Homo sapiens: one gene and its partners. The protein of the gene in region 1 purifies or fractionates together with the protein of each later gene. This does not show direct contact. Each region holds a gene or a part of one and is shown in the gene's direction. Other genes may lie near its edges.

Region 1 (4,740 bases):
GAACGCACCAACAGCACCACGCTCGTGGTGCCTCAGGTTGTTAAACCAGCCGTCATAGCGCTGCACTTCCCAGGGCAGTGAGAGTGCGTCCTGACTGCCTGTGGGCACAGAGAAGGGCCTCCTCAGCACTACGCTCCCAGCTACCCCTCCCGAGCAACGAAGGCCTTGGCCAGTCCTTCCCCAGCTCGCGGAGCGCCCCTAACCGGACCCAAGTGTCGGGCCGCACTGGGAAGTTTCCCATCCCGCTGAGCTGCACGGCGAAATGACCTTCCAGTCTCAGGGAGCCGCTTGCCGCACCTCTCCCCGCCCCACCTCCCAGGGATCCTGGGGAACACCCCGCCGCTAGAGGAGCCTGATACTTGCCCGATGGACCCAGGGATCCAGTCAGAAGAGCTCCCAGGAGCATCAGTGCCTCTGGTCTTGCACGGAGCATGCCAACCCTGCAGCCTGCGGGGTGAGGGTGGGGGTGGTAGGTGGTATGCGAAAGCCACTGTTAGGGCGTCCTCTATGCCTCCCCTCTTGTTCCTACAGCTAGTACTGGAGGAGGAGCACCAGCTGTTTCCACTTCTGGAAGGTAGCTGTTAGAAGCATCACCGAGGACCTTCATCCAAACGCCACTCTTTCCAGGACAATTGGCAGCTCTGGAGGCATTGACACTGTTCCCCATCCGCCACCCCATCAGAGAGTTAACCCCCGACCATAGGAACCCACTGGGCAGGAGTCTTCTGGGGCATGTCAGTCCAGGGCAGGACTGGTCAAGCCTCCCAGGGTGTGCCCAATGTCTCCAATGTTTCACCTCCACCCGCCCCCGATCCGTCAGGCTCCGCTTCTCCTCCAGGAGGCAGGGAAGGGAAAAAGGTTACTGACCTGGGAGTGAGGGACTGCAGCACCCTTCCACAATGAATCCCCCCTTCCCCAATAAACTCCCCTTCTGCAATGAACGCCTGTGCATGATGGGCGAGGGCTAGGGTCAGATCCCAAACTCTGGTCTAACCTGTGGTTTAGGGTGGTGTTGGGTTCAGATGTCTTCTTTCCTCTTAAAATCTTTGCTTCTGTGCTCTACTTCTTGCCTTCACCCTCACTCTTCCAGCTCCGCCGATCCTCAGCCTCCCCGGCTGCACTCTCACCTTTCTCTCTGGGTCCTTGGTCTCGCCACTGTGCAGGTGTCGGCTCAGGACAGACCTGCGCCAGTGTGAGCATCTGGACCTAGGGCTCACCCTCCTGCCGTGGAGGTGGGGCCCTTATTTGCACAACCTCTTCCAGCTCAGACCAGCCCCTGGGCTGGGACACCCGTGTGGCACGTCGCCCACGCTGCTATAAAAGGGGTCCCGCGCGACTTCCAAACTCAGCGCCAACCCGCAGAACCAGGAAAGTAACGGCTACAGACAGTGAGAAATAGTTTCGCTCGCCGGCTAGAAAAACTCTGTCGGTACCAACCCCAGAGCGTTGAGAGCAGCCCACCTCCACGCTTCCTTAACGGAGAGGTGCAGGACTCAGACTTCACCAGCCCACTCGGTCCCAGCCTTGTACGCAAAGAGACGCCAAGGACGCGCTCTCCCGCGTCCAGGCAGCCCCAGCTTGCTGGCTTGCCTGCCCGCCTGCGTGCAGCACTCGGCCGGCGTGCAGCATGACCCTGTGGAACGGCGTACTGCCTTTTTACCCCCAGCCCCGGCATGCCGCAGGCTTCAGCGTTCCACTGCTCATCGTTATTCTAGTGTTTTTGGCTCTAGCAGCAAGCTTCCTGCTCATCTTGCCGGGGATCCGTGGCCACTCGGTAAGGGTGTCCTCATAGTGCAGGTAGAGTGGGGGAAGGCTCATGGGCAGATTGTCTCCTGAGGGACCCAGGACAGGTAAGACTGTACAAGAGCCTCCATGAATAGTCGAATTGAGGCTCAGGTGGAGTGAAGTCAGGAGTCTGGTGCAGCAAGCACCCCTTTCCAAGGATAGGGAGAGCTCCCCATCCAGGATATCCTGGAGAAGGACCCCAGCTGGGTCCTTGGGAAGGCTGCTGCAGAGAATGGGCACCCAGTCCAGTAATCCTGAGGAACAGTCTAGGCTTCTTGTGCTGGAGGGCCTCCCACCTCTCCCAGGACTAAAGCTGCACTCTCATCCCATCCGGTGGGTGATGACCTTCAGGCCAAAAGGACAGATGCCAGCAGCTCAGACTGCAGTGTTCCCCTTTGCACTGGGTTGAGACACATGTGTATGGGTGCCTCATCCTCAGGACTGAGACTCCCACATTGGATTAGAAGTTGGAGCCAACTGGGTGCATTGTCTTAGACTTTCCCCCTCTCCCAGAACCTAGGTTGTGCATTTTTCAGTTCTGGGAGGACCCAGCTTTTCTGCATCTTAATCTGTGTTGCTTTCCCTGGAACTGGTGCACCTAGGAGTATCTGCATTCCCACCTCCTCCCCTCGGAGATCAGGCTGGGGCCTCCCTCTTCTGAGGGAGGTGACCCCTGCGTGCCTAGCACTTCTGGACTCACTGAGCCTCACCAAGCAGTGACTGGACCAGGAGGCAGAACCAGGACCAGGCGCCAGACAGCTAGGGGAGTGAAGGTGGTGGAAGAGTGCCAGGAAGTGGGGGTGGAGGGGAGGTGCTGTTAGGGTAGATGGGAAATGGGGCTAGGGAGGTGAAAGTGCGTGGTCACAAAATATCAGAAATGCCAGTAGCCCAGAGGGACTTGCAGGAAAAGCGTGCCTAACATTAGTCTCAAAAGTCTGGATATAACTAAAGATCCAGGTGAAGTGGGGTCAAGGGTGGTCTTGGGGACTCTGGTTTGGCAGGGCTCAGGCCTGACCCGGGTGCCTATTCCTGCAGCGCTGGTTTTGGTTGGTGAGAGTTCTTCTCAGTCTGTTCATAGGCGCAGAAATTGTGGGTGAGTGTGTGGTGCAGCCCATGGGGAGAGGACGGGGTGAGGAAGGAGGTGGGCAGAGGGCACCTGGGACAATAGGGAACTGGGGTTGGTTTTCTGCTCCCTCTTCCCACTCTCCAGCTCCTTCTAGGGCCCACTTTTTGGCCCTTACCATGCAACCACATTGGACCTCTAAGTCCCCATCTCTCTGCAGTGTCCCACCTCCCATACCACTCTCTAATTCCATTTTCCCACCCTCATCCCACCCCCACCGTGTGCCTTTCCCTACAGCTGTGCACTTCAGTGCAGAATGGTTCGTGGGTACAGTGAACACCAACACATCCTACAAAGCCTTCAGCGCAGCGCGCGTTACAGCCCGTGTCCGTCTGCTCGTGGGCCTGGAGGGCATTAATATTACACTCACAGGTGAGGGGGCTGGGGCTAAATGAACTCCTGGAGCTGGGAGATCCCCGGTTAGGTGAGTGTGTCAGGGATAGCTGGAGGGCCTCTCACATCCCACAAGCTCAAATAGCTTGTGGTCCTCGTGGATTTGCGTTTTCTCCAACCACCACCGAACCCATTTCTCCCGCCGAGAGCGCCACACCCCCACTTTCCTGTCTGAATCCGCTTAGTTGCGAGGTCTCCGACCGCGGGCAGCCCCATGAGCCCGCCTCACCCCACAGGGACCCCAGTGCATCAGCTGAACGAGACCATTGACTACAACGAGCAGTTCACCTGGCGTCTGAAAGAGAATTACGCCGCGGAGTACGCGAACGCACTGGAGAAGGGGCTGCCGGACCCAGTGCTCTACCTGGCGGAGAAGTTCACACCGAGTAGCCCTTGCGGCCTGTACCACCAGTACCACCTGGCGGGACACTACGCCTCGGCCACGCTATGGTAAGTGCTGGAGGGAAGGCTGTGTGCACGTGTGTGTGTGCCAGGAGCTGGGCCGTATGAGCGGGAGGATGCAGGCCTCGGAGGCGCTGAGCAGCTGCAGCCAGACCCGACGCGCTCGGGGTGGGCATGACAGCCTCGCGGGTTAGAAGATCCACGAGATCTGCACAGACGGAATCCGGAGAGACTCCAGCCACCGCCTGGACCTCAGGAGCCCGCTTCTCCCCCGGGGAATTCCCCTGCACCGCTGCCATCCCAGTCCCTGGCTTTGACGCTGGGGTAGGGATAAAGAAGAGCGCAGCTGTGGGAACCCCGGTGGGCTGGGAGAAGCCCGCTCACAGCGGGTCCCCCCACTCCCCGGCAGGGTGGCGTTCTGCTTCTGGCTCCTCTCCAACGTGCTGCTCTCCACGCCGGCCCCGCTCTACGGAGGCCTGGCACTGCTGACCACCGGAGCCTTCGCGCTCTTCGGGGTCTTCGCCTTGGCCTCCATCTCTAGCGTGCCGCTCTGCCCGCTCCGCCTAGGCTCCTCCGCGCTCACCACTCAGTACGGCGCCGCCTTCTGGGTCACGCTGGCAACCGGTGAGGACCGAGAGAATGGGCCCCGGGGGCTAAGGGTGGAGACAGGATTCACACCGGGTGTGCACTTTCCAGTTTACAGAATGAATTCACATCTATTACCCTATTTGCCCCTCTCAATAGTTCGCAGAAACAGGCACTGTTATGACCATTTTACAGATGAAAAGTGGGGGGCTCAGAAGGGTTTGGTGTCTTGCCGTGTTTCATGTAATTCAGATTAGAGGTGTGTGGCGGGAGGTAACACAAGGGGTAGGCTCCAAAAGATGGAAGAAGGCCCGGGCATCACGCCTGTAATCCCAGCACTTTGGGAGGTCGAGGCAGGAAGGTCGTTTGAGGCCAGAGTTCGAGACCAGCCTGGGCAACATAGCCCTGACTCCACATGCCCTCCTTTCTTTCGATCCCCACCGCCACAGGCG
Region 2 (4,093 bases), on another chromosome or scaffold:
TATGATTTCGTGTGTTTTAAGAAGTGCCGTGACATGAAGAGAGTTGAAATTTTAGGATTGAGCAGAGATCTCTTGTCATCAGACATACTCCTAGCCTAACTCGGTCTCTTCCTCATTGCCAATTCCTGGTCCTGACCCTATGGTGTAGAATTCAGACCAGAGGAGAAAGAGTTGTTTCAAGGCCAACTTCAGACGTTGACAGTGAAATAAAACATTACTCTTTTCCTTGTATATGGAAGCACTGCAAGGTCAGAGAGGAAGAGCAGTGGGTGAAAGCAAATGATTTCCGTCTGTTCTTAACTCTGATGCATAAAAGATGTGTGTAAATACAGAGTTTTCTGATGAAGACCATAATAAATCAGTGGAAGATTTTTGGAGCTTTTGACTCTAGCTTTGGGGCTGCCCAGTCTAAAGTTACTTCTGAGATGAAATGATGTATCAGGGATTTTTTTTTTTCATTAGGCCAGGTATTCTAGCAGTTAATCTTGAAGTTGTGCCTGGTTGATCTTTTAAGATAATTGCCATCACCACATAGTTTAGAAATCTCCCACCCCAAGTTGAAGGTGATACACTAAAGAAGGGAGAGAAGCCAGAAGCCTCACTTTCATTCACTTAGTCATTCTTTCAACATGTCGTTTCCAGCACTTTTCTATGTGCCAGGTCTTGAGCTGGGTGCCTGAAATAAAAAAGATAAATAAGACTTCAAGGAGGTCTTACATATGCTCAATAAGCAAGACTGGGAAAAATAAAATATTTTTCTTTGTTAGAAAAAGCTGGGGAACTTTGCTTTAAGTACAATCCTTTGAGAAGGCTAAATCAATTACCCATTCACAATGTGGAATGTTACATTATGGATTTGTGTGAAACGGCACTTCTATAATGATTAGAGAGAGATGTATGTTCCCTTTAATATGCCACACAAGCTGTTCCACCAATTTTCTTCTCTTGGCCTTGGGCATACTTACTTGTCCGGTGCTGTTAGTATTATTAGAAATTATTAACAAATGGCTGTAAAGGACTATAGGTTATAGGAGCCAGTGGCTCTGCTTCCAGCTTCTCCCATTTTTTTTTGTTTTTCATTTTGAGACAGAGTATTGCTGTGTCGCCTAGGCTGGAGCGCAGTAGTGTGATCTTGGCTCACTGCAACCTCTGCCTCCTGGGTTCAAGCAATTCTCTTGCCTCAGCCTCCTGAGTAGCTGGGACTACAGGCGCGTGCCACCACGCCCAGCTAATTTTTGTATTTTCAGTAGAGACGGGGTTTCACCATGTTGGCCAGGCTGGTCTTGAACTCCTGACCTCATGATCCACCTGCCTTGGCCTCCCAAAGTGCTGGGATTACAGGCGTGAGCCACTGCACCTGGCCTCTTCTTTGTTTTAAAGCATGATTTATTTATTTATTTTGAGACAGCATCTCACTCTGTTCCTAGGCTGGAGTTGAGTGATGAGCTCATGGCTCACTGCAGCCTTGACCTCCTGGATTCAGGTGATCCTCCTACCTCAGCCTCCTGAGTAATCAGGGCTATAGGCATGCGCCACTACACCCAACTAATTTTTGTATTTTTTGTAGAGACAAGGTTTCACCATGTTGCCCAGGCCCATCTTAAATTCCTAGGCTTAAGCGATCCGCCCGCCTCAGGTTCCCAAACCGCTGGGATTACAAGCGTGAGCCAATGCGCCCAACCCTACAGCATGATTTACTCTGGCCAAGAGAGTTGCCAGGAAATTTGTTAATATTTAAAGCTTAGTTTTGATTCAGTCAATATTGCAAATCTAGCCCTATCAGAGGAAGGTCTTTAAAAACAAAGGCTATTTCATTTCCCAAGGATAATGAAATTACTGCATCTTTTATTATTGTTGGTTGCATTCCTACTCTTTTGAATTAGAATACTTTTATCAAAAACAAGAATATTCAATTAGTGGTAGAAGGCACCTAATTCCAATCCTATCTATTACTAACTAGATGTATAACCTAGTAAAAGTGACTCACTTCTCTCTAATATTTGTTTCTTTATGTAATAGAGAGTTTCATACATTTTTCTAAAGTCGATTCTAAACAATATTAGAGTTAAGTATTGTGTGGAAGAAGCAAGAGTTTGAAAATAAAGTTTTATACTGACATTAGTTTTTTTTTTCTTTTTTTGTTGAACCACCCAAGAATGCATATGCTGACATTAACTTAATGTAACATTTCTGTCCCCAGATTTAGTGCTATACAATGTGCAGCTGCCGTCCCTAGAGCTCCTGCTGAATCCTCTTCGTCTTCCAAAAAGTTTGAGCAGTCACATCTTCACATGTCAAGTGAGACACAAGCCAACAATGAGCTGACCACCAATGGTCATGGCCCACCTGCATCCAAGCAGGTTTCCCAGCAGCCCAAAGGAATTATGGGAATGTTTGCCTCCAAAGCTGCTGCTAAAACCCAAGAAACCAACAAGGAAACGAAAACAGAGGCTAAAGAAGTAACAAATGTAAGTCTTCTTTGAAGATACCCCTTCATTGCAGCTCAGAGTGGGTAACTAGAAAAGCATTAATGGTTGCAGTGGTAGTAGTTTATTTATATAAGATTCTGATATTCAGTTCTGATTTTTCTACTTTAGTTTGAACCCTTTAATACTTGATATTGTTATCTGAAAGAGTTCTTTTGCTTTTGATAATGATTCTCACCAAACCTTGGATTTCCTTTGCAAAATGGTAATGCCTACCTTGTGCACATTACAAGATTGTTGTGAAACCCAGATGAAAACATGTGAAAACACCTCGAGAATTGTTGACATTCAAAAAAATGTTTATTTGCAATATGTCTTTCTGAGGAACATCTTATATTCTGGGCTTTGCAACATATACCTTCCTTCCTAGTGTATTTCCCATTCTTATACTTTATGCAGGTTTTTTTGTTTTGTTTTTGCCTTATTTGCTTCTCTTAGATTTTTATTGTTCAGTCATCTGAACTAACTCAAGGGCATTGACTTAAGAAAAGTATCATTAAGATACTATTTTAAAAATCCAGAAAAGCATAATTATTGTTGTTACTATTATTATTATCACTGTCATTTTCCAGTGTCAAGTGTATTTAATTCAGATCACTGTCATTTTCAAGCGTCTGTCTTGGGAAAGAAGAAGGATGGAGGAAAACACTAACGTTTATTGAATTTCAACTGTGTGCCAGTGTCTTTGTTTAAATCCTCTTATCAGTTCTGTGAGGGAGATATTAACTATTTCCCTTTCGCATATGGTAAAACTGAAACCTAGACTTAAGTAATTTGCCTGGAGCCCATATTGCTACTAAATGGTGGGAACCAGGAATTCAGATCTACTTCTGATGATTAAAAATGTAATGTTTTAGGTTTTCCCGCTTTGTGTACATACTGCCTCTGATCTTTTTTAATTCTGTCAAATTAAATAGTTTTTAAATGTGCTCAAGAAAAGTTTAGCTATATCCATGGATAATTAATTTTATAAGATATATAAGAAACTAAGCTTTAGAGATTAACACCAGTTACTGTCTGGTGTGGATTATTGTTCTAGATTTGTTCTTATATCTAACACCTACGCGTTTTGGCATGATTATATAGAGACTATACCATCGCAACAGTTTGCTATAGAAGAGTTTGTTTGAGACTGCTACTTCATGAACAGCCTAAATGCCAGCAAAAAATCATATGTGTTTTCTGTGCTTGTAGGCATCTGCAGCAGGCAACAAGGCACCAGGGAAAGGGAATATGATGAGCAACTTTTTTGGAAAAGCTGCTATGAGTAAGCATGTTCTTACCTCACTTTGACTAACGAATGAATGTTAATGTAATGACATATTATACCTGAAGTGAAAGCCACTTTGTCTAGTTTTTGCCAATCCAAGAGACTACCTGCATTCTAACAAATTTCCAGTGTACTGCCCAATATATTGATGAAAGTAACTCAGCTAGAACTTTATGGGTGAGTTAGGCTCAGTTGAGATCTCTTTGAGAGCAGTTTATTATTCCTGGTTTAACTTCCTGCCTTGAAAAGATAATGAACTATTTGCTTCATAGGGCCCTTGAAAATGGGTGATTAAAATAAAAGGGAGGCTGCCTGGCTACGCAGTATAGTGTTGAGG
Region 3 (4,093 bases), on another chromosome or scaffold:
GGAAATATTAATGGTTGATCACAGCCAGTGGTCTGGGAATTCGTGCTTTAGAAGATGTATGTTTGGCTTTGTGTTTATATATATATGAGTACCTGTGAACGATATTTGTATCTAGAAATACACTAGTCACTGATTGAATGTTTATTGACTCCCTCCTGAACACCAAGACATTGTACTAAATGCTTCGCATATCTCATTTCATCTTCATAATGAACCCTGTGAGCTTTGTATTGTTCTGTTTACAGTGAGGAAATAGAATCTCAAAGAGGTGATGTAATCCACCGAAGGGTTACACAGCTATAAGTGACATAACTGCAGTTAGAACTCAGGTCTCCCTAATTACAGAGGCCATTTGGAATTTTAGCCTAGAATCCATAAATCCACAAGCTAATGGGTGTCTTTTCCATCGAAATATGCTGAAGATACAGTTATCCCGTAGAGGTCTTCAAAAAACACTTTTTTAAAAGTAGTCTTGTAGTACAAAAAGTTGAAAACATTTCTCCACCCTTTAAACAACAGTCCTTTGGATGATAAAACAGGTGAGAGTTTCTCCTTTCTGGTGACTCTTAAATTAGGAATAAAACTACCACCTTGCCTGAACCAGTGTGATTCTTCAATCTTTGGTTCTAACTTACAGAGTGCTTTCTAGGGGAAAAACAAAATTGCTCCTGTGTGAAATTAGTGGTTATCCAAGAAATACTTCCAGGAACTCTTGACTAGGCGTAGAAAATAAGATGGCATTTAGTGACTTACACTAATGTGAGGTTAAAAGTTGAAGGCCAACTCGTGTTGCCGAAGTAGACAGATTCTCTGTAGTTGCAAAGCTGTGAGGCTCCCTGTCTGGTGCAGCGTTTCTTCAATTTGGCTGCACATCACAGCCTTCTGTGGTGCTTTTTAAAAATACATAATCCTGGCTGGGTGCGGTGGCTCACGCCTGTAATCCCAGCACTTTGGGAGGCCAAGACGGGCAGATCACGAGATCAGGAGTTCGAGACCAGCCTGACCAACATGGTGAAACCCCATCTCTACTAAAAATACAAAAATTAGCTGGGCATGGTGGCGAGCGCCTGTAATCCCACCTACTCATAAGGCTGAGGCAGGAGAATTGCTTGAACCCAGGAGGTGGAGGTTGCAGTGAGCCAAGATTTCGCCACTGCACTCCAGCCTGGGTGACAGAGTGAGACTCCATCTCAAAAAAACAAACAAAAAACAATCCTGCACCCCACTCTAGCCATACGAATGAGACTCTTTGACTGAGGGACCCATGTATACGTGCAGTTAACAAGCTCCTTCAGGTGCTCCCAAGGTCCAGCATGCCTCTGGCTGTTACCTGGAACTGGGTCCACACCAGCCTTGGGAAGAGTAAGGCACCCTTAGGCTAAGGATTGCTGTCTCTTTATTATTTGTTTATTTTCTAAGCAAGCTAACATAGGAGATTGCTATCTCTTTAAAGTTGCAACTTAAACTTCTAATCAGGGTTACTAGAGGTGATGAGTGAAGGAAGCCTTGGGCTCATCAGAGCTCCACAGGGCATTTTTAATCCCTTTTTCTTAATTGTCACTGAAATTATGAGCATACTCTCAGATGCCAGTTTCTGTAAACTGCTTGATAACATGCTCACCATTTCCTTGTTCTAAATGGTAGTTGTTGAAGATTAACTTCATGCCAGTTTAATCATCCACGGATTGATGTCATGCCTTTCTGTGTCCTGTATGAATTCTGCCAGTGGTGTTAAGAGGAGGACGGCAGGGGATCTGCACTGCAGCCTCGGACTCCTGGCTGTGGCCCATGGAGCCCAGTGCCGTGGGTGCTGCCTTGCCTCATGGCAGCCTCTTCTCACAAGCTGTGATTCTGACTGATCTGTTTCCAGTTCCTTGAATGTGCCACCCTCATGCTTCTTGTGCCCTCAGATCTTTTGGTGGACTCCCTCTAATTACTTGAGTCTCAGCTCAGATATTGCCTCCTCAGGGAGAGGTTCCCTTGCCCATCCCTTGTATTACCTATTTTATTTTCCTTATAGCATTTTTCACTATCTGAAATAATTTTATTTGCTTCTTTGTTGTTTGTTTCTTCCACTCTGATCTTAATTCCATTCCTGTCTGTCTTGTTTCTCTTTGGACCCTCAGCATCTGGAACAGTACCTGGCTTGTAGTAGGTGTTCACCGTATTAAAGGAGTGAAGGGTTTGAGTTCTGTACCCTCGCCTACCTGTCCCACAGGGCAGAGCTGAGCTGAGCTTGTGTAGGTACCTCTTGTCGCTAATGGCTTAGAACTGCAGCTGTTTGCTGGAGCAGAGCTTAATACCCTCACGCCTGATGATTTTCTAAATCTGTCATTCTGCAATGCCTCCATGGAGCTTCTTCCTTGCCTATGTGTGGTAGGTTAGAATGACAATAGTTATTTGGGAATATATGACCATAAGGCTCAGTTAGAGGGTAAGTGATCCCTTTGGATTAGAGTTAGTTTCATAGTCTCTCAAGTGGCAAGATTTTGGTCTTCTGGGCAGGAGCTGTTTCCTGAGATCCTGGATAGTAAAGGATGTCTTGAATTTGGAAGAATTTAGCCCTGTTGTCTCCTCTTTCCCCTTGCTATAGAAATACAGTAGGCTGGGTACAGACAAACTTGAGACTGACTCCCAGAGACATAAGTGCGGCGTGCCTGGACAGCGTACTGCTATGTGTTTTATAAAGTGCCTTCCAAAAGCTTCAGGACCCTCTATGGGTTAGAGCGGTCTTCCTAGGGGACCCCTTTGAGAATCTGATATAGTAACAGACCCTCTCCTCAGAAAAATGTACAAGCACCCGTGCATATGGTTTTGCCTATCATCTTGAGGGTGCAAAGACTTCACGGATGCCCTTCAGGGACCCTAAAATTCTGTTTGGGGATTTAAGTTGGTTTGTTCATCCATCACAGCTGGGTCATAGCTCTTCTGTGGCTGTGTCTTTCTGACTTGGTCTCCTGTCTTCTGTGCCCTCTCTTGTTTTTATCATAACCTGCTGGACCCTCTCAGGCCCAGAAGAGGCGATATTCTCCAGGAGTCCAGGTACTCAGTTCTTGGCTCATCATGAGCATCCCTCATTCCCATGTGTCCATCCAACATTTGTTGCTGTTTCAAGTCCATGTGGTTGTCTCAGGAGTCCCCGGTCTCTGGTCTCGACTGCATCTCCATCTTGCATGTTAACCATTTGGGACAAAGGGACAAATACTCCCCAAAGGAGTGGCATGCCTCATGTTACCCCTTCACCACCTCACTACCCTGCCTTTTTGCACTGCCTTGGCATTGGGCTTGTTCTGGAATGATTAGTTCGCCATTTCTAAGGAAGAATTGCTCCTACAACTCTACTGGGGAGAGAGGGCCCCTGAAATAGATGGGAAAATGAGTGGCTTATGGGAAAACTTGCAATTTTCTCCCTGTTAAGGGAGAACCTTGCCCTCTTATTATTATTCGGAGAAGTTACGTGTGGAGGAGGCTTAAGTGGGCTGGAAAGTCTTTTGACTAAGGACAGTCATTGTGGCTGGCTGAGCCCATCCAGCAACCCCGTTCCATGTTCTGAGTTCTAATCCATTTAGCCTTATATGCTTATAGAATTTTAGAATTGAAAAGAGCTATCCTGAATGGAAAGATTCCCCTGCTCAAACAGGTATTTTCAGAATACCCGCTGTGTGCAGAACCATGGTTGGGAGGAGATGGGGCTGAAGTTTAGACATATGAAGACGTGATGAATGAATTTTTTCTTCAAGAAGCTTATGTGGCAGTTGGGGAGATAGGTACATATACACGAAAAGGAAACCCCTGGTATTAGGCGGCACATAAGTGCCAAATGGTGACCTTGGGGCATTCAAGTCAGACTCCAGCGTCTTAGGAGGACCACTTCAGGCCCACCCCAGTTCAGGAGCCAAGAGAATTACTGAAGGCAAATACCAAGTGTAGTCGCTTCCTGGGCCCATTTCCCTTGAGAGACCATCTGAATGTGGGCTCTCAGGGGCTGCTGACAATGAGGTCGAGTGGCTGCCTATTCTGCTGTAAGGGGCTCAACTTGTATGTGCTGAATTCCTGTTGCTGTTTGTACAGGCGTTCCTATGTGCTCTTCCTT
Region 4 (3,812 bases), on another chromosome or scaffold:
CCATCAAAGGTGGTCCCAGATAGTAGGGACATCGTCGTGAGCACGTGCTGCACAGGGCCTCGGCTGGGGTGGGGGACACCCTAAGAAGGGTGGCCAGGGAGGCCTCTCTGGATATGAGACGTGTGAAGACAAGAGAAGGATCCCCCCATGGAGAGATGGGGGGGCCTCCCTACTCCAGGCGCGGTCCACAGACCAGCAGCAGCAGCGTTGTTAGGAGCTTTTTGGAAACGCAGCCTCTGGGCCACCCGGGCCCTGCCACATCAGAATCTGCATTTTCACAAATGCCCAAGGGGTCACGTGCACATGATAGGATCAGGAGCCCTGGTCTAGGGGAAGGAAGCTCCAGGCAGAGGGAGAGGCAAGAACAAAGATCCTGAGGTTGGAACCGGTTGTGTGTAGGAAGGACAGTGAGGGAGAGCGTGGCCAGATGGCGGCGGGTCGGGGCGGAGAGGTGGGATCCCAGGGCAGGGTCATGATGGCTCTGGCTTGATGCCAACAGGGTCCCTTTCTGTGCATGTACCTGTGTGTGTACATTGAGGTGCACACACAGGCATGCACACCCCTCTGTTCCTGGCCGTGCAGAATGGAAGGGGGTTGTATGGCCAGGCCCAGGGGCTCTCATGGGGTTCAAGGCCAGCCTCCCATACAGGGTCACCCTAGAATGGGAGCTGGGAGTTGGTGGTGGGGAGATGTTACCACATTTCGGTTATTTAACATTCAAGCCTTCATTCCTGCCTGTGAGATGAGGGGACTCAGGATTGTAAGTGAGGCCCATACATTCACACAGACATTTACTAAGCTGTGGATACATCATAGTGCTATTAATTTGAGGGGTGCAAAATCTCACAGTGCTTAAGTGGGTGGACTTCAGAGCCTGTTCACCACAGTTTGAGCCCTGGCTCAGCCACGTCCCTTTACCTGAGCCTCCTGGGCCTCAGTTTCCTTGTTTACAAAAGAGAATAGTAATGAATAGGATGGGCCTAGGAAGTTTGTGACAGTGAGAGGCCACACGGGGACGCAGCACAGTGCCCGGCTCATAGGAGGTGCTCGCTGGGTCTCATGGGTGCCCGACAGCACGTGCTTGGCAAACACTATGGAGAGGTGGGGCAGACCCGAGTCACAATGGCTGGGGAGGGAGGAGGAGGGATGGGGTGGGGCTCCCCCACCTGCTGACCCCGTGCCCTCACTGCCCGCAGGCTTCCTCATCTTCATCTGGTACTGGTCCATGCGGCTGCAGGCCCGGGGTGGCCCCTCCCCTCTGAAGAGCAACTCAGACAGCGCCAGGCTCCCCATCAGCTCGGGCAGCACCTCGTCCAGCCGCATCTAGGCCTCCAGCCCACCTGCCCATGTGATGAAGCAGAGATTCGGCCTCGTCGCACACTGCCTGTGGCCCCCGAGCCCGGCCCAGCCCCAGGCCAGTCAGCCGCAGACTTTGGAAAGCCCAACGACCATGGAGAGATGGGCCGTTGCCATGGTGGACGGACTCCCGGGCTGGGCTTTTGAATTGGCCTTGGGGACTACTCGGCTCTCACTCAGCTCCCACGGGACTCAGAAGTGCGCCGCCATGCTGCCTAGGGTACTGTCCCCACATCTGTCCCAACCCAGCTGGAGGCCTGGTCTCTCCTTACAACCCCTGGGCCCAGCCCTCATTGCTGGGGGCCAGGCCTTGGATCTTGAGGGTCTGGCACATCCTTAATCCTGTGCCCCTGCCTGGGACAGAAATGTGGCTCCAGTTGCTCTGTCTCTCGTGGTCACCCTGAGGGCACTCTGCATCCTCTGTCATTTTAACCTCAGGTGGCACCCAGGGCGAATGGGGCCCAGGGCAGACCTTCAGGGCCAGAGCCCTGGCGGAGGAGAGGCCCTTTGCCAGGAGCACAGCAGCAGCTCGCCTACCTCTGAGCCCAGGCCCCCTCCCTCCCTCAGCCCCCCAGTCCTCCCTCCATCTTCCCTGGGGTTCTCCTCCTCTCCCAGGGCCTCCTTGCTCCTTCGTTCACAGCTGGGGGTCCCCGATTCCAATGCTGTTTTTTGGGGAGTGGTTTCCAGGAGCTGCCTGGTGTCTGCTGTAAATGTTTGTCTACTGCACAAGCCTCGGCCTGCCCCTGAGCCAGGCTCGGTACCGATGCGTGGGCTGGGCTAGGTCCCTCTGTCCATCTGGGCCTTTGTATGAGCTGCATTGCCCTTGCTCACCCTGACCAAGCACACGCCTCAGAGGGGCCCTCAGCCTCTCCTGAAGCCCTCTTGTGGCAAGAACTGTGGACCATGCCAGTCCCGTCTGGTTTCCATCCCACCACTCCAAGGACTGAGACTGACCTCCTCTGGTGACACTGGCCTAGGGCCTGACACTCTCCTAAGAGGTTCTCTCCAAGCCCCCAAATAGCTCCAGGCGCCCTCGGCCGCCCATCATGGTTAATTCTGTCCAACAAACACACACGGGTAGATTGCTGGCCTGTTGTAGGTGGTAGGGACACAGATGACCGACCTGGTCACTCCTCCTGCCAACATTCAGTCTGGTATGTGAGGCGTGCGTGAAGCAAGAACTCCTGGAGCTACAGGGACAGGGAGCCATCATTCCTGCCTGGGAATCCTGGAAGACTTCCTGCAGGAGTCAGCGTTCAATCTTGACCTTGAAGATGGGAAGGATGTTCTTTTTACGTACCAATTCTTTTGTCTTTTGATATTAAAAAGAAGTACATGTTCATTGTAGAGAATTTGGAAACTGTAGAAGAGAATCAAGAAGAAAAATAAAAATCAGCTGTTGTAATCACCTAGCAAACTGGCGTAAGCATTTTGGGTCATTTCCTTCTGAGCTTTTTCCTGTGCTTCTATTGAAAGAGTCACTGATACTAATACAAATACCTTGGGGCCAATCAGGAAACATGAAAGAGAGAAGAGGGCTGTGTGTGAAGAAAAAAAAAAAATCGACTGCTGGAAACCTCATCAACCAGGGCACAGGGGAAGATAAATGGCAACTTGGTGTCTGTGCTGGGGAGGCAATGGGGAGTGGTGGGGCCTGTGGCGAACTGGAGACTCCCAACCCCATGCTGAGAGCGTGGCTGCTCATCAGCTCCAGCTGGTCACTACCTTGCAGGGATGAGGGCCCATGTAGCCAGACCACCTGCCTTTTATGAGAAATGGGAAATCCAGACTGTGGTTTGACATCCCCTGATTTTAAAATTTTGGCGAATCCAAAACATTTTCTGGCCAAAGAGATTACAGTCAAAAGCTGCCTGGTCCTGGGATTTATGCAACCAGTTTACTGATCACTCTGCAGCAGGTGGGCTGCAAGAATTAAATCACTGGACTTCTCTCCCATCCCTGCCTTTAACCTTGTTCCACCAAATCAATCTCTCCTCCCGCTCCTAAGGCCCAGGTGAGGCAGATCACGCAGGTTCCCATCTTCCCTGTGATGAGGGCAGTCACAACGGATCATTGCTACTGTGTTCAGGTAAGAGGTCCCAGTGCAGCCAAAGTCCTCCCCAAGGCCCACAGTCCACTCTCTCCCTTCTGCAGGCTCCTCCCTCCTCCCCTGGCCACTCTAGGGGGATGCCCAGCAGGGGAAGAGGCTCAGAGTCTTGGATTGGACAAGGTGGGTGTGAGGCAGCTGGGTCTAGACTGGCAGTGCCCTCTGAGGGGCGTGAATGTGGGATCTTGGGACCTGCAGGGACCAAGAACCCCTGTGCCCTGCTGCTCTCCCAGCCCTCCCTCCACCCCCTCCACTCCCTCCACTGACCTCTGTCCCCACCTTTCTGCAGGTGGGGGGCTCCTCTTATGCCCCCAGCTCCAAAGGACAGAGGCCAAACCTTCCCAAGCCT
Region 5 (4,093 bases), on another chromosome or scaffold:
AACTTACTTCTTTGTACTGTGAACAACATAAAGAAAGAAAAACAGAAGATAACTGATTTTTTTTTCAAATTGTGAGTGGGAAATATAACTTTGGTCAAAGATGAGACTCAGTTCCTTATTGGAGTCTGTTTATAGAGTTTACTAGGGAATTAAGTTATAATATGAGGAAATCTGAGGTCAGAGAAAAAAGGAAGAATGACTGTCGGCTTTTAAATGATGTGTATTAAGAGATGTCAACATGTTAGAACATTAACTGCTGTATATATCCAGATTGATTTCCCAAAGAAAGAAAGACACTTTCTTACATTGTTTCAATTGTTTAATGTTTTTGGACTTAAATTTTTATCATATGAGAAATGATGAGTTTTACTTTACTTACCTCCATCAAAGAGAGGAATTGGATGAAATCTATCCCTGAGAATGATGCTAGAAACATAAAAGAGATTGTTCATATTGTCTCCTAAAAGGGGATGGTCATGCTTTTTCTTGGTTATCAAGTAAAAGTGAGGCAATTAAAGTATTTTGCTAATTAGCATTCTTCATTGATTTATAATAGAACTTTCAATGTCTGGGAAACTATTTTCTACATTTTTATGGTTGCAATTAATATTCCCCATTAGAAAGGTTATTTGAATGGTGAATTACCTATTCTTTCTTAACAAAAATAAAATATGGGAGAAAAACTTTACACCTGTATTTATTCCGATTGTTGTTTTATGCAACAAAGTTTAGTTAATAATTCAAATAAAGAACTAGTACACGGCCAAATTACCTTCCCCCCAAAACTTGACAGCTTTTTTTTTTGAAAAAAAAATTTTTTGAGATTCTTCTACACATTTCCTGTGTTGGTGGATATCCACTTTCATTTTGTTTTTGTTTTGTTTTGTTTTTGTTTTTTTGAGATGGAGTCTCGCTCATCGCCCAGGCTGGAGTGCAGTGGGCTATCTTGGCTCACTGCAAGCTCGACCTCCCAGGTTCACGCCATTCTCCTGCCTCAGCCTCCCGAATAGCTGGGACTACAGGCGCCCGCCACCACACCCAGCTAATTTTTTGTGTTTTTAGTAGAGACAGCATTTCACTGTGTTAGCCAGGATGGTCTCGATCTCCTGACCTCGTGATCCGCCCGCCTCTGCCTCCCAAAGTGCTGGGATTACAGGCGTGAGCCACCGAGCCCGGCCCACTTTCATTTTTAACAGCCTATACCATATCAGTTTTTCTGTTCAGTTTCGTTATTGAACATCAGAAACATAATTAAGTACTTTTACTAGCATGATTTATTTGTCAAGGAAAATATTAATAATAATAGCTAATATTTAATAATCCAGGCACTGTTCTAAGCATTTCATATGCAGTGTCTAATGTCAATATATCTTAACACTAGTTAATAAATATTGATTACAGCTTTTTAATAAATATCAAATGTTCTTTGACTTTACGGTCACACTATTTAGTCAAGGGCCATTGGGTTCAAACTCTACAGGAAACTAAGAGAAAACCTCACACAAACATCCAGAGAAAAAAAGAATTGTCATGTAACAAAATGAGGTAGTCTTCCATTTCAGTTCCAAGAAAGATTATGAGGTGGGCAGAAGGGAGAATGAGCCAAATGATTTCTCCATTTTTCTAGTTAAAAATTTATTTTTCCCACAATAAGGGCATTTAAATTCAAATTTTTGGAACCACAGACTGTACATTTGAGTGGCAGTAAGGAATTATATTTATTTTTCTTCAAACACCTTTCAATATTTCAATATTCAATAATAGAATTCATTATTAAAATAAGGATTGAGCAATGTTTGAACAATGGAACTCTTAGATATGACACTGAATGTGGTTTGTCAATTTAAAACCAACCATAGGCTTTGAGAATCTCTGTTTTAAATAGTACCAATGTATTACCAAAGCCAGATTCATTTAGTGGTTTATTGTCTCAGAGACGTTATTTTAGTTTTTCATCAAGTTAAAAAAAAAAACCATTTTACAGTGAAAAGAATGCTTTGAATATTAGTCAGAATAATTGAACTTAAAGCATTTTAAATCTCTGCTCAACCTTTCACAGTAGAAAGTTGTAATTGAGTCATAAGATCTAGAATTCAGAAACCACCCACTCAGATTGTCTCCATGAATTTTAAATATGTATAAGGGCCAGGAGTTTTTCAATTGACCATCATAATGAGTGGCCAATTGACTTTTGGTTTCCCAATCAGATGACCTGTGTTAAAGCCCTGGCTCCTTTTCTCCACCTTCATTTTCTCTGTAACTTAATCTGTGTTATTCAACCATATTTTTTTCAAAATCTCCATTTTGAGAATTAATTTTCTCTACCATTATCTTTGGGTTTAGGTCTGTTTAATGTGAGTTAGATGTAATAAAGACTAGGTAAAAGCGCCTATTACAATTCCTGGAACATACTAGGAGTTGAGTAAATGCAGATTCCTTCTCCATGTTTCCTTTCCTCTCATCTTAACACACTGTGCCCATTTAAAAAGGTGACCAAGCAATTTTCCTTGAGTCAGAGAGTCAGAATTAAAGGACTAATAACTTTTTCGAATTGTTGTAACAGTTATTTCTTAAATGTTTGTCACTTACTATATGGCATATCTTACTGTTTTTTCTTATGTATGTGTTATGCTGTAGCTCCATTCTCAAAGTACAAATTCCTGAAGGGTAAAGTTTTTATCGTTTGTTCATGAACCCAACCTGCAAAGTGCTCTGAATACAAACCCATTCATAGCTGATGATGATGATGATGATGATGATGATGATGATGATGATGAAACGAGAACAGGAGGAGAAAGAGAAGGAAGAGGGGAGGGGAAGAAAAAGAAGAGGATAAAGAGGAAGAAGAAGAGGTCAATTGTGCAGACTAAAGAAAGAATAAAACACAATTTTTCCCCTAAATAGAGACAGATCTAACAGAGCAGCTAAACCTGGCTTGGGAGAATGCAGCAAGGACTCCATTTTATGTCATTAGATTTGAATTAAAAATAATTCTTTTATTCTTTGACCTGAAATATATTCAGTAGTTTGGTAGCAGCTTTCTTGAAAATGAATAGATTTTCTTTTTTTATTATTAAAGAGCCCACACATATTTTTAGCATTGTGATTCTGGCAATGAAGTCAAATACATTAAACTGTCAGATTCAGCAAATGGTTACTGAAACTTGGAAAATTATGTCATAATATTTTATAATACGCTGTTAAAATTTAACAAAGTAGTTTACAAATTTGCTGACACTAGGCTTACTGTGTTCATTCATAAGTATTGATCAAAGAAAACAAAATTACATAAGAAATAACAGTTTGAAATCATTGAGGACAGTTTAATAAGATAAGACCTTTTCTAGGATATGTTTAGTAATGTTCAAGGTAATGAATTTAAAAAATAGCATGCAATGAGTAATCAATTTTCTTTTGCCTTCTTTTACGCTTTATTTTAGTTTTTGTATTTTAATTGGTATATAGTCTCACACAATTGGCTTATATTTTAGATGGGATCAAGACAGTATCTGAAAACAGGGCATTTGAGCTCTGGTCAATGGTATCGGAAGAGTATTTCCATCTAACCTTTCAATGCTCATCATATTCTCTCTACAATTTTGGTGTACTAAGTTTTTTGATGTATTAATCACTAATTTGTGTTTTGAGATGAACTTGTGATACCATTATTTGGTGGAATTGAGAATGAATTCTTGTTAAACAACTGAAATAACTTCATGTTTTATAGGCCAGTTGTATAGCCAGGCTGAAAAGTATAATCTTGAAGAAAGATAAGCTTATTTATTTATGTGTTACTTTTACATAGTAACTTTTTTTTGCAACACTGCACGAAAATTTAATTCACAAAGAGACAGCAAGCATGTATTTCCATGATTGATCTCTACAACACTGTTTAGCAACTTTGAACCCCCTCCAAATGATTGGGATCTGCTCATTATACTTATACGGAGTGTAGTATGCTTACCAAAGGTCTAAAAGGAGCTACTGATTTATGATACATGTGGTTCTTTCATATCATCTGTGTATCAAGAGCGACCACTATTTTACATAAATATCAAAAATATTTTTGCCCATTGTTTCTGCTAAATTGGAA
Region 6 (4,093 bases), on another chromosome or scaffold:
GAGCCTTGCTTCAGAAAACAGCTGTTAATCACATGTTTGTTGTATTTTCCTATTTACTTCCTTTTACTTCCCTTCGCTTCCCTTAGCCTGTCCTTGAACCAGTGTTACCATCTTCTGGGCTCTACTCTATGAAGGTTAGTGATTTCCAGTGATATAGCACTGAGCTGAGCATGGGAGGAGGGGAGAGACTCAACAGCTGCCTAGGGAGTCCCAAAGGTTTAATGCCAACTTTCTCTTACCCTATACTGCACAAAATAAAGAACAAATACCCTAATATCTCCCCAAAGAGAACTGCATTGTTCTGTATAATTTTCTTTTATCTTATAACATAGTAGAATCAATTCAAATACAAAATAACATTGACCAGAGATGAAAAGGAAGCTATACACTTGTGTGCACTATTTGGAAAGTAGTGTTGTGCTTAGCTATAAAATCTCACTTTTTGGCCTTCATCTATACTTAATACATTAGGAACTACTTTTATTTAAGCAAGATTTAATGTATTACTTTCATTACAAAGCTGAGAAACTCTAGACACCACAAAGATGTGAATTTTAAATGAAAAAAAGCAAGGCAGTAAAGTAAGCCCCTGGCAGCTTGATGAATGAGCAGGTGCAATGCACCATTTGAAATGTATCTTGAGGTGAGCTTCCACCAATCTGCTGGAGAATGAGCTCCTTCTTGCCACCTAAACTCAACTGATTTTCCTCTTTCTGAGACCACAGACAAAAACATGATAGCATACAATAGGCTAGATTATGACCTGGTCACATAATCATTTATCTCTCTAAACTTGCTGTTGAAGTGAGCAATGTTACTGTTAATGTATTCATATTTGTACCTAAAATATATTAGTGCCAATTCTCCTAATTCTATAGGAAATTGAGGTCCTAGAAGGCTAACTGACTAATTCAAAACTACATAGGATAAAACTGTAGAAACAGTGTTAGTCACCGTACCTGCAATAGATATTTCACTTAATCCCCACATAACCCTTTCAAAGTAGGCTTTATTAGATGTCTACAACACATGAAGAGAATGAAGCTCAGAGAGTTTAAGGAAAATAGACATGACTATTCAGCCAAAAAGGGGCAGAGCCAGGATTAAAAACAAGTTCTTTCTCATGACAGAGTACATGCTTTTCTAGTATGTCATACTGCTGCTTTTAAGGGAGCCATTCTCTTCAGTTAACTGGACCTACCTATTTTCCCCCATATTTAAACAAGGAGTTTGATTATTCCTTGAATTTTATTTTAGTACTCATAATTTTTTAATCTCCTTGATATCTTTTTCATGTCCAAAGCATTATCTGCATTTCTCCAAGAGCAAACTTTTACAGTTACTTTCCAAGGATCTCATAAACAGTAAATAACTTTTTCAGAAAATATACCCCACCCCTATCTGCCACCCTGCCTGTATCATCTCTGGGGGTCAGAGCACTTGGGGAAAACTGAGGGGCTTTCCATTTTCTTTGAAATTTGTGCATATGTAGCCAGGATGCCTGCTAAGGATCCAGTACGTCAGTTTCAGCCAGTTGTTCTTTTCTGCCTTTCCATTTCTGCACACGTGTCTTCTCTAATCTGCAAAATTATCTTCTTCATTTGGCCAAACCCTATCCATTTGTCTAGGGTGGTTCATGTTCCTTCTCCACCATAAAATTTTTCTTATTATTCCAACCCTATTGCTGTTCCTTACCTCTGAAATTCCAAGTAATTTCCAATAACATCTGCTGTCTAATTTGGTCTTTATTCAGGGATTAAGAGGAGTAAGCTAACATTTTTTGAGCCTTTACCTTATATACTTTTACATACATTATCCATCAACTATAAATTTCTATTTCTTCATTATATTTCTGCATTTTGCCCTTATTATTTTTTCGCACTCGATAGTCACCCAGATGTTGTGATACATTTCCGGAGTTTCAGTAATGACATTCAAATTTTATATTTCTTGTCCATGCATTGCTCCTGATTGTCATACCTATATTTCCAAAGATCTAATTTCATCTCCACCTAGAAATGCATCACAAGCATTTTAAAGGAAACTGTCCTAAAGGAAAGCATTCAAAGCCACAGGTATCATCCTCCCTGCCACACTTGCTTATCTCTTTAGATTTCCAAGTGGTAAATAGCACATCATGCATCAAGACACATTCCTCTTTGCTATGTCCCTCTGCCTCATTCCCTATGATCATGTAGTGAAAAGAAAAAAAAAATTATGATTTTTCTCTTGAACTTCACCTCTTCTCCTCATGGGCCTGCCCTCCAATTCTTACTTCCACTTCCTGGGATCAGCCATTTGAAGTCATGTGCAACAAGTTTGGCGAGCTATCTGTCAGGGCAAAAATGACAATTTCTAAACTCCTTAGTCATTGAAGGTACTCTGTGATATGAAGCATGAATTCTTCTTTTCAGTCTTCAGAATTATCAATTACTATGAAAATTTACTTGCATTTTCTTAAACACTCAGGATGTTTCATTCCTCTCGGCTTTTGTGTGTGTGTGTGTGTGTGTGTTTGTCCAGAATTCTGCCCCAAATGGTTCTCACTTTCTTATTTTTTTAGCGATGTTTGAAAACACAAAACAAGTGTCACTTCTTCTGTGAAGACCTTCATGTTAAGAAAATAGGTTTAAGTATTCCTCCCTTTCTGATCATTTAATAATGCCTCTGAAATTCCATTGTAATCATTTATTCGTTTCTACTATGAGACTGCGCTATGTTCTGAATGCTGTGTCTTCTCCAAATTCATATGCTGAAATTAAAATTAGGAAGTGGGGCCTTTGGGAGATGACTAGACCATGAAAGCAGAGCCCTCAGGAATGGAATTAGTGCCCTTATAAAAGAGGTCTGAGTAAGCTCTCTTGCCCCTTCCCCCCCGACTAAACATAAGAAGATGGCTGTCTATGAAGCAGAAAGTGGGTCCTCCCCAGACACCAAATCTTCCAGCGCCTTGATATTGGACTTTCCAGCCTCTAAAACTATGAGAAAAGCATTTCTATTGTTTACAAGGCACCTATTCCATAGCACTTTGTTGTAGCACCCTAAAGATACTAAGACAGACTCTAAATTCTGTGAAGCAGTATGTCTCAAACTTTGTCCATTGAACCAAATAAATCTTAAAAGTGAAAAAAGTAGCCCTTAAAACACCAGTCCCAGGATCCCCCATCAGAATTACTACAATAGAATATATGGGGGTGGGGCACTTGAGTCCACATATTAACAGAATCTATTCCAGGTGTAACTAGGAACAGGGAGTTTATCACAACAATTGCTCTCCAATTCAGTCAGATCAATATGGCACTTAATTTAGCATTTGGGGGAGGAGCCATTTGCAAAGCTTTTTAGATCTTATTTTGTGTCTTCCCAGATTACCGTGCTTCAGAGAAAGATTTGCTTAGAGTATAGTAAATTAGATCACATGAGTCACTCTTACTGAAGTACAAGAGTCCTGCATCAGAAAGGCAGATTTGCCAAGAGCAGAATTTCAGTAATCACATGTGAACATGGCATTTAGAGTTGAGGTGCTGCTGTGCAGAGTACTTGGAGCTTTTAATGACTCTGACTTTTTATTATTATGACAAGTTTGATTAGCAGACACAAAAATGAGTGAAACAAGTTCCCTTGAATTACCACCCAGGTTAAGTAATAAAAGATTAAATGTAATATTGAAGTTTTCTGGGTACTCTTCCAGATTGAATCTCCCTTCTAAGAGGTAACCAGTGTGGTAAATTTGCTGTTATTATTTCTATGCATTTTCTCTTGAGTTTACTGTATATATTACATATTTAATTCATATATAGTATTGTCTTAAGTAAATAAAATATTAGCCTAAATTGTCAAATATTGTTTGCATTCTTGGAAATATTTTTTTATGATTAATTCAAGTTGCTTCGGGTACAGTTACTTTATTCATATTCATTGCAATATAGTGTTCTATAAATACTATAAGTATATACATATATTATATTTTTAAATATATTATTATTATATATTTAGTAGGTATGGTAAAAATATATAGTATATTTTATATATAGTACATATATTTCATATATAATATAGTGCATATATATTATAGTATATATACAGTATTAAA
Region 7 (3,521 bases), on another chromosome or scaffold:
GTTGCAGTGAGCTGAGATGGCGCCATTGCACCCCAGCCTGGGCAACAGGAGTGAAATTCCAGCTCAAAAAAAAGTTTTTAATGTGTGTAGTCCAACTCTGTTATATCCTCAGTTTACTGAAGTCTTTTGTTTATGATAAGGGTATAAACACTAATAGGATAGAAATGTGTTGTTACAGTTTTAAGTGTTTTTTTTTCCTTTTCTCTTTCACAGCATTTGGAATTTGAAGTCTATAAAAGGTTTTTTGACTGGTGCATGTATCTTACTGAATATAGTAGCAATATTCTTGTTCTGTAGCAAGGTGTTCATTCCATTCAGTATTTATTAAAGTACCTAACAAGTGCCAGGCACTGTCCTAAGCACTAGTATTACACGAGGTTTTTCGGGAGCTAAAACCTTTAGGGTAGGACAGAGAAGGAGAGTGCAAAAAGGACTCTCGAGAAAAAAAAAATGGTATCTCAGGTGCTTCTACGAGGCTGGTGCTGTGGTGGCCCCTGCCTTGTAGAAACAGTGAAAGCCGCACTGCAGGTAGATCAGTGCGTCCAGAGCTAGGCGAAGAGGTGAGGCTGGAAGGACACACCAAGCTCAGTCAGAAAGGGTGGTCTTTGTGAACCAGGCATTTCGATTTTTTCTTAAAGGCAGGGAGAAGCCTTAATTATTTTCATCATCAAATTTCTCTTTTCTGGTTGACTCAAGGGGCTCTGCACTACATGGCATTATCTAGGTAAGGTTTCTGAACAATTAGAGTAAGGGATTGTCCCTGATTTCTTTCTCTGAGAATTGCAATCTCCATCTTTGCTAGTTCTATTTCTATAGAACTTTTCAACAGCAGAAACCTCCTTGCTCTATTTGTATACACAAGAAACTGTGCAGCCAAGGTCCTGCCATTAAAACTATTGATTCACTTGACTCCAGGAACCCAGGAGGCCAGAGGAGAGTTCCATCTCTGCCTGACCTCTTTGCCTTCTTGTGGTGCTTTCCTGTTTGAAGTTCCCATGCTGGTCATCTCACAGGAAAGAAGCATGTCCTATGCACTATGTCCCTATGCAATCCCATTCTGACACCCTCTCTACCAATTTCTCCTTTAAAAAATCTGGATCTGGTTACCTGGACAAGGCCTTCATGTGTAAAAGGATCAAAAAAAGGTTAAAACAGAATGAGCCTTTTTTCTCTGTCTGTTAAGAGAACAGATTTTAGGACATTAAATTAATAGAGAAAGTTTTGCTGAAAAAATGAGATGATTAATAGAATGCTGGTTACCTAGGGAGAGTGGGGGATTACCTAGGACTGGTAGAGGATTTTTTACTTTTATCTTGTTTTTTGACAACGTGTATCTTATTAGGAGGGAGTCAGACCGCTGCTTGTCACTCACTTCATGGTATTTTCAGAGTCTCAGCCTCCTTGCAAGGATTTCTCAAAGCATTTAAGAATCATATAATACAGACCAGTTATTGGCTTTTAAGTTTTCTTCTTTAATAAAATAACTCAGTGGCCCTAGGAGAAATCTGAGAAATTTTCATACTCTAAATGAGATTTTGCTTGAAAGTAATTTTCTCTGCTGGCAAAAAGGATTAATACTGACATGAAACATGGGAAGTAGAATTGAGTAACACCTGGAATTTGAAAATGAAAGGGCACAGAGTGCCAGGCAGGGGGCAAGCTGAGGTTTCTCACTACAGTACTTCAATCCTAAGATGCCACTGAATGGTCTCTTACAGTCCTTTATGGACTATTAAGAAAAACAGATTGCTAGTTCAATTGTCACATGCTATCAGTTGCAAGTGGTAAAACTATACATCTCAGAATCAGTAAAGTGTGGTATCTGGAATAACAGTTACAGGTAAATTTTTTTTAATGATTTTTATGATGAATTACATACATAGAATTAAAAGTTCAAAAACCTACCTTAAAGGGTAAGATACGTTACTTTTCTATGCTAGTAGGAATTCAAATCCTTGAATGATAAAGCCATTTAGAGTCTTATTCCAAGGTCCTGCTGACAGAGCCTGATGTCACGATTTCCATGACATAATCTTGTAACTTTGTAAAAGGCTTTCCTTTCCCGTCTTCTCTATCCAGGGCTGGTGCGGATGGAAGGGCCCAGATTTTTGGAACAAGGATGCATACTATAACTTATGTCTTCCTCAGCGACCAAATATGATTTAAAATATCTTGGAGTCAAAGACTGCAGTAGAGTGGTATTATAAATTTGTGAATAAAGAATCAGTTTAATTTTTCACATTAAATCCTGGTTCTAGTTTGACGATTTAAATTATGACCTTTTTCAAAGGTTGTAAATACTGCACGGAGAATGTATTTTTTAGACGTTCCTTTAATAACTTAAAAGACAAAGCATACACAACCAGCATATTATAGGCATGTAAATACATGTGTTCTTAAATGGATCTTCACTTGGAAGAAAGTTTTTCGTCCTTCTCAGAAGGAGATTAGACACAACATATGGTAAAGCCAAAAGCAGGAGCTTATAGATTTGCATGAAATGAAGGCGTTCTTCAGACTTCTTCATAACCCACGTGACATCTGTTTTTAAAAACACGTTAACATTAAAAACTTTTTTTTAAAAAGAGTTTTATCCCCAAACTTCCACCATGCAGTCCCATTTTTGGTCTCTAGACTCTGGTAAGTATAACCAGTACTAAAATGTTAATGAGAATGAAACAATACTACTAGAAATACGAGTGTCAGTATTAAATGGAATAATAAATGCTATGCAAACAAGAGATCACTGCGGGAGGAAAAAAGCAGCAGCTCTGAGTTACTTACCAGCACTTCCTTTTCCCACTGGTATTTTCTACACTTCCGAGACTCCGTTTCTGTCTGAGCACGGCAACACAATCATTCCTGTCAGGGTGTTCACTTGCTTTTATTGTCTGCATACATTTAATTGTTGTAAGAAACTTGGCACAGTCTGGAAATCCACATGACCAAGCGAGATCTTCAGCTGTTTGCCCGTTCTTATTACATAAACTGAAAACAGGATAAAAACGGAGTGAAATGAAACATTGAACTTAAGTCTTTTTTTTTATATCTTACAAGGGAATTTTGGGCTCATACAAATGTTGGTTGCAGAACAGAAGAGGTAAAGGATGCATAAGGAAATTGCATTTTTGGTCACTATTGTATCCTCAGCAACTAACAGAATCCAGCATAGAGCGGGCATTCCAGTTCTGAATGAATGTTAGAATTATCTGATGTTTAATACAGTGTATGAGTACCCAAAGGTAGTCAATGGGAACTATAGAATGGGTTTTCCTGAACCGAAACTGAAGTAGAATACAGTCATAATGAACAAAATTGCACCTCTGATTGCTCAGGATCTGACTTTTTACTTACTCGAACTGAGTATTATTCGATAGCACCAACAACCTAAGTTAACATTTAAATGATTAACACTAAATTATCAATTACGCAAGCATTATTTTTAAAAGCACATGTAACTAAGCTTCAGGAGTCTGATTAGTTTAATCCAAGAAAACATAAAATGTGAAGCCACTGTTTTC

Evidence for each region.
Region 2: the proteins of DUOXA2 (region 1) and POLD3 purify together in Homo sapiens (affinity purification with mass spectrometry; one large-scale study listed by BioGRID and IntAct). This does not show direct contact.
Region 3: the proteins of DUOXA2 (region 1) and LMAN2L purify together in Homo sapiens (co-immunoprecipitation; 2 studies listed by BioGRID and IntAct, with this or other methods). This does not show direct contact.
Region 4: the proteins of DUOXA2 (region 1) and ADGRG1 purify together in Homo sapiens (affinity purification with mass spectrometry; one large-scale study listed by BioGRID and IntAct). This does not show direct contact.
Region 5: the proteins of DUOXA2 (region 1) and GPM6A purify together in Homo sapiens (affinity purification with mass spectrometry; one large-scale study listed by BioGRID and IntAct). This does not show direct contact.
Region 6: the proteins of DUOXA2 (region 1) and ROBO1 purify together in Homo sapiens (co-immunoprecipitation; one large-scale study listed by IntAct). This does not show direct contact.
Region 7: the proteins of DUOXA2 (region 1) and UFSP2 purify together in Homo sapiens (co-immunoprecipitation; 2 studies listed by BioGRID and IntAct, with this or other methods). This does not show direct contact.

What each region holds. Positions count from the first base shown.
Region 1 is NC_000015.10:45,112,979-45,117,718, forward strand, and holds the start of DUOXA2 (dual oxidase maturation factor 2), read left to right. Parts: upstream 1-1,347; 5' UTR 1,348-1,627; coding exon 1,628-1,774; intron 1,775-2,820; coding exon 2,821-2,878; intron 2,879-3,145; coding exon 3,146-3,280; intron 3,281-3,486; coding exon of another isoform or gene 3,487-3,537; coding exon 3,538-3,751; intron 3,752-4,112; coding exon 4,113-4,327; intron 4,328-4,387; exon of another isoform or gene 4,388-4,536; coding exon of another isoform or gene 4,537-4,737; coding exon 4,738-4,740. Other genes in the region: DUOX2 (dual oxidase 2 isoform 2 precursor), read right to left, coding at 9-98, 364-433; DUOXA1 (dual oxidase maturation factor 1), read right to left, coding at 4,537-4,740. UniProt on the Homo sapiens protein: Required for the maturation and the transport from the endoplasmic reticulum to the plasma membrane of functional DUOX2. May play a role in thyroid hormone synthesis.
Region 2 is NC_000011.10:74,616,337-74,620,429, forward strand, and holds part of POLD3 (DNA polymerase delta subunit 3), read left to right. Parts: intron 1-2,200; coding exon 2,201-2,468; intron 2,469-3,680; coding exon 3,681-3,753; intron 3,754-4,093. UniProt on the Homo sapiens protein: Accessory component of both the DNA polymerase delta complex and the DNA polymerase zeta complex.
Region 3 is NC_000002.12:96,712,056-96,716,148, reverse strand, and holds part of LMAN2L (VIP36-like protein isoform 2 precursor), read left to right. Parts: intron 1-3,009; coding exon of another isoform or gene 3,010-3,042; intron 3,043-4,093. UniProt on the Homo sapiens protein: May be involved in the regulation of export from the endoplasmic reticulum of a subset of glycoproteins. May function as a regulator of ERGIC-53.
Region 4 is NC_000016.10:57,662,256-57,666,067, forward strand, and holds the end of ADGRG1 (adhesion G-protein coupled receptor G1 isoform b precursor), read left to right. Parts: intron 1-1,196; coding exon 1,197-1,327; 3' UTR 1,328-3,312; downstream 3,313-3,812. UniProt on the Homo sapiens protein: Adhesion G-protein coupled receptor (aGPCR) for steroid hormone 17alpha-hydroxypregnenolone (17-OH), which is involved in cell adhesion and cell-cell interactions.
Region 5 is NC_000004.12:175,801,849-175,805,941, reverse strand, and holds part of GPM6A (neuronal membrane glycoprotein M6-a), read left to right. Parts: exon of another isoform or gene 1-16; intron 17-4,093. UniProt on the Homo sapiens protein: Involved in neuronal differentiation, including differentiation and migration of neuronal stem cells. Plays a role in neuronal plasticity and is involved in neurite and filopodia outgrowth, filopodia motility and probably synapse formation.
Region 6 is NC_000003.12:79,761,032-79,765,124, reverse strand, and holds part of ROBO1 (roundabout homolog 1 isoform a precursor), read left to right. Parts: intron 1-4,093. UniProt on the Homo sapiens protein: Receptor for SLIT1 and SLIT2 that mediates cellular responses to molecular guidance cues in cellular migration, including axonal navigation at the ventral midline of the neural tube and projection of axons to different regions during neuronal development.
Region 7 is NC_000004.12:185,399,037-185,402,557, reverse strand, and holds the end of UFSP2 (ufm1-specific protease 2), read left to right. Parts: intron 1-1,834; exon of another isoform or gene 1,835-2,079; coding exon 2,080-2,166; 3' UTR 2,167-2,540; coding exon of another isoform or gene 2,541-2,541; 3' UTR 2,542-2,780; coding exon of another isoform or gene 2,781-2,988; 3' UTR 2,989-3,021; downstream 3,022-3,521. Other genes in the region: ANKRD37 (ankyrin repeat domain-containing protein 37), read right to left, coding at 2,781-2,988. UniProt on the Homo sapiens protein: Thiol-dependent isopeptidase that specifically cleaves UFM1, a ubiquitin-like modifier protein, from conjugated proteins, such as CD274/PD-L1, CYB5R3, DDRGK1, MRE11, RPL26/uL24, TRIP4 and RPL26/uL24.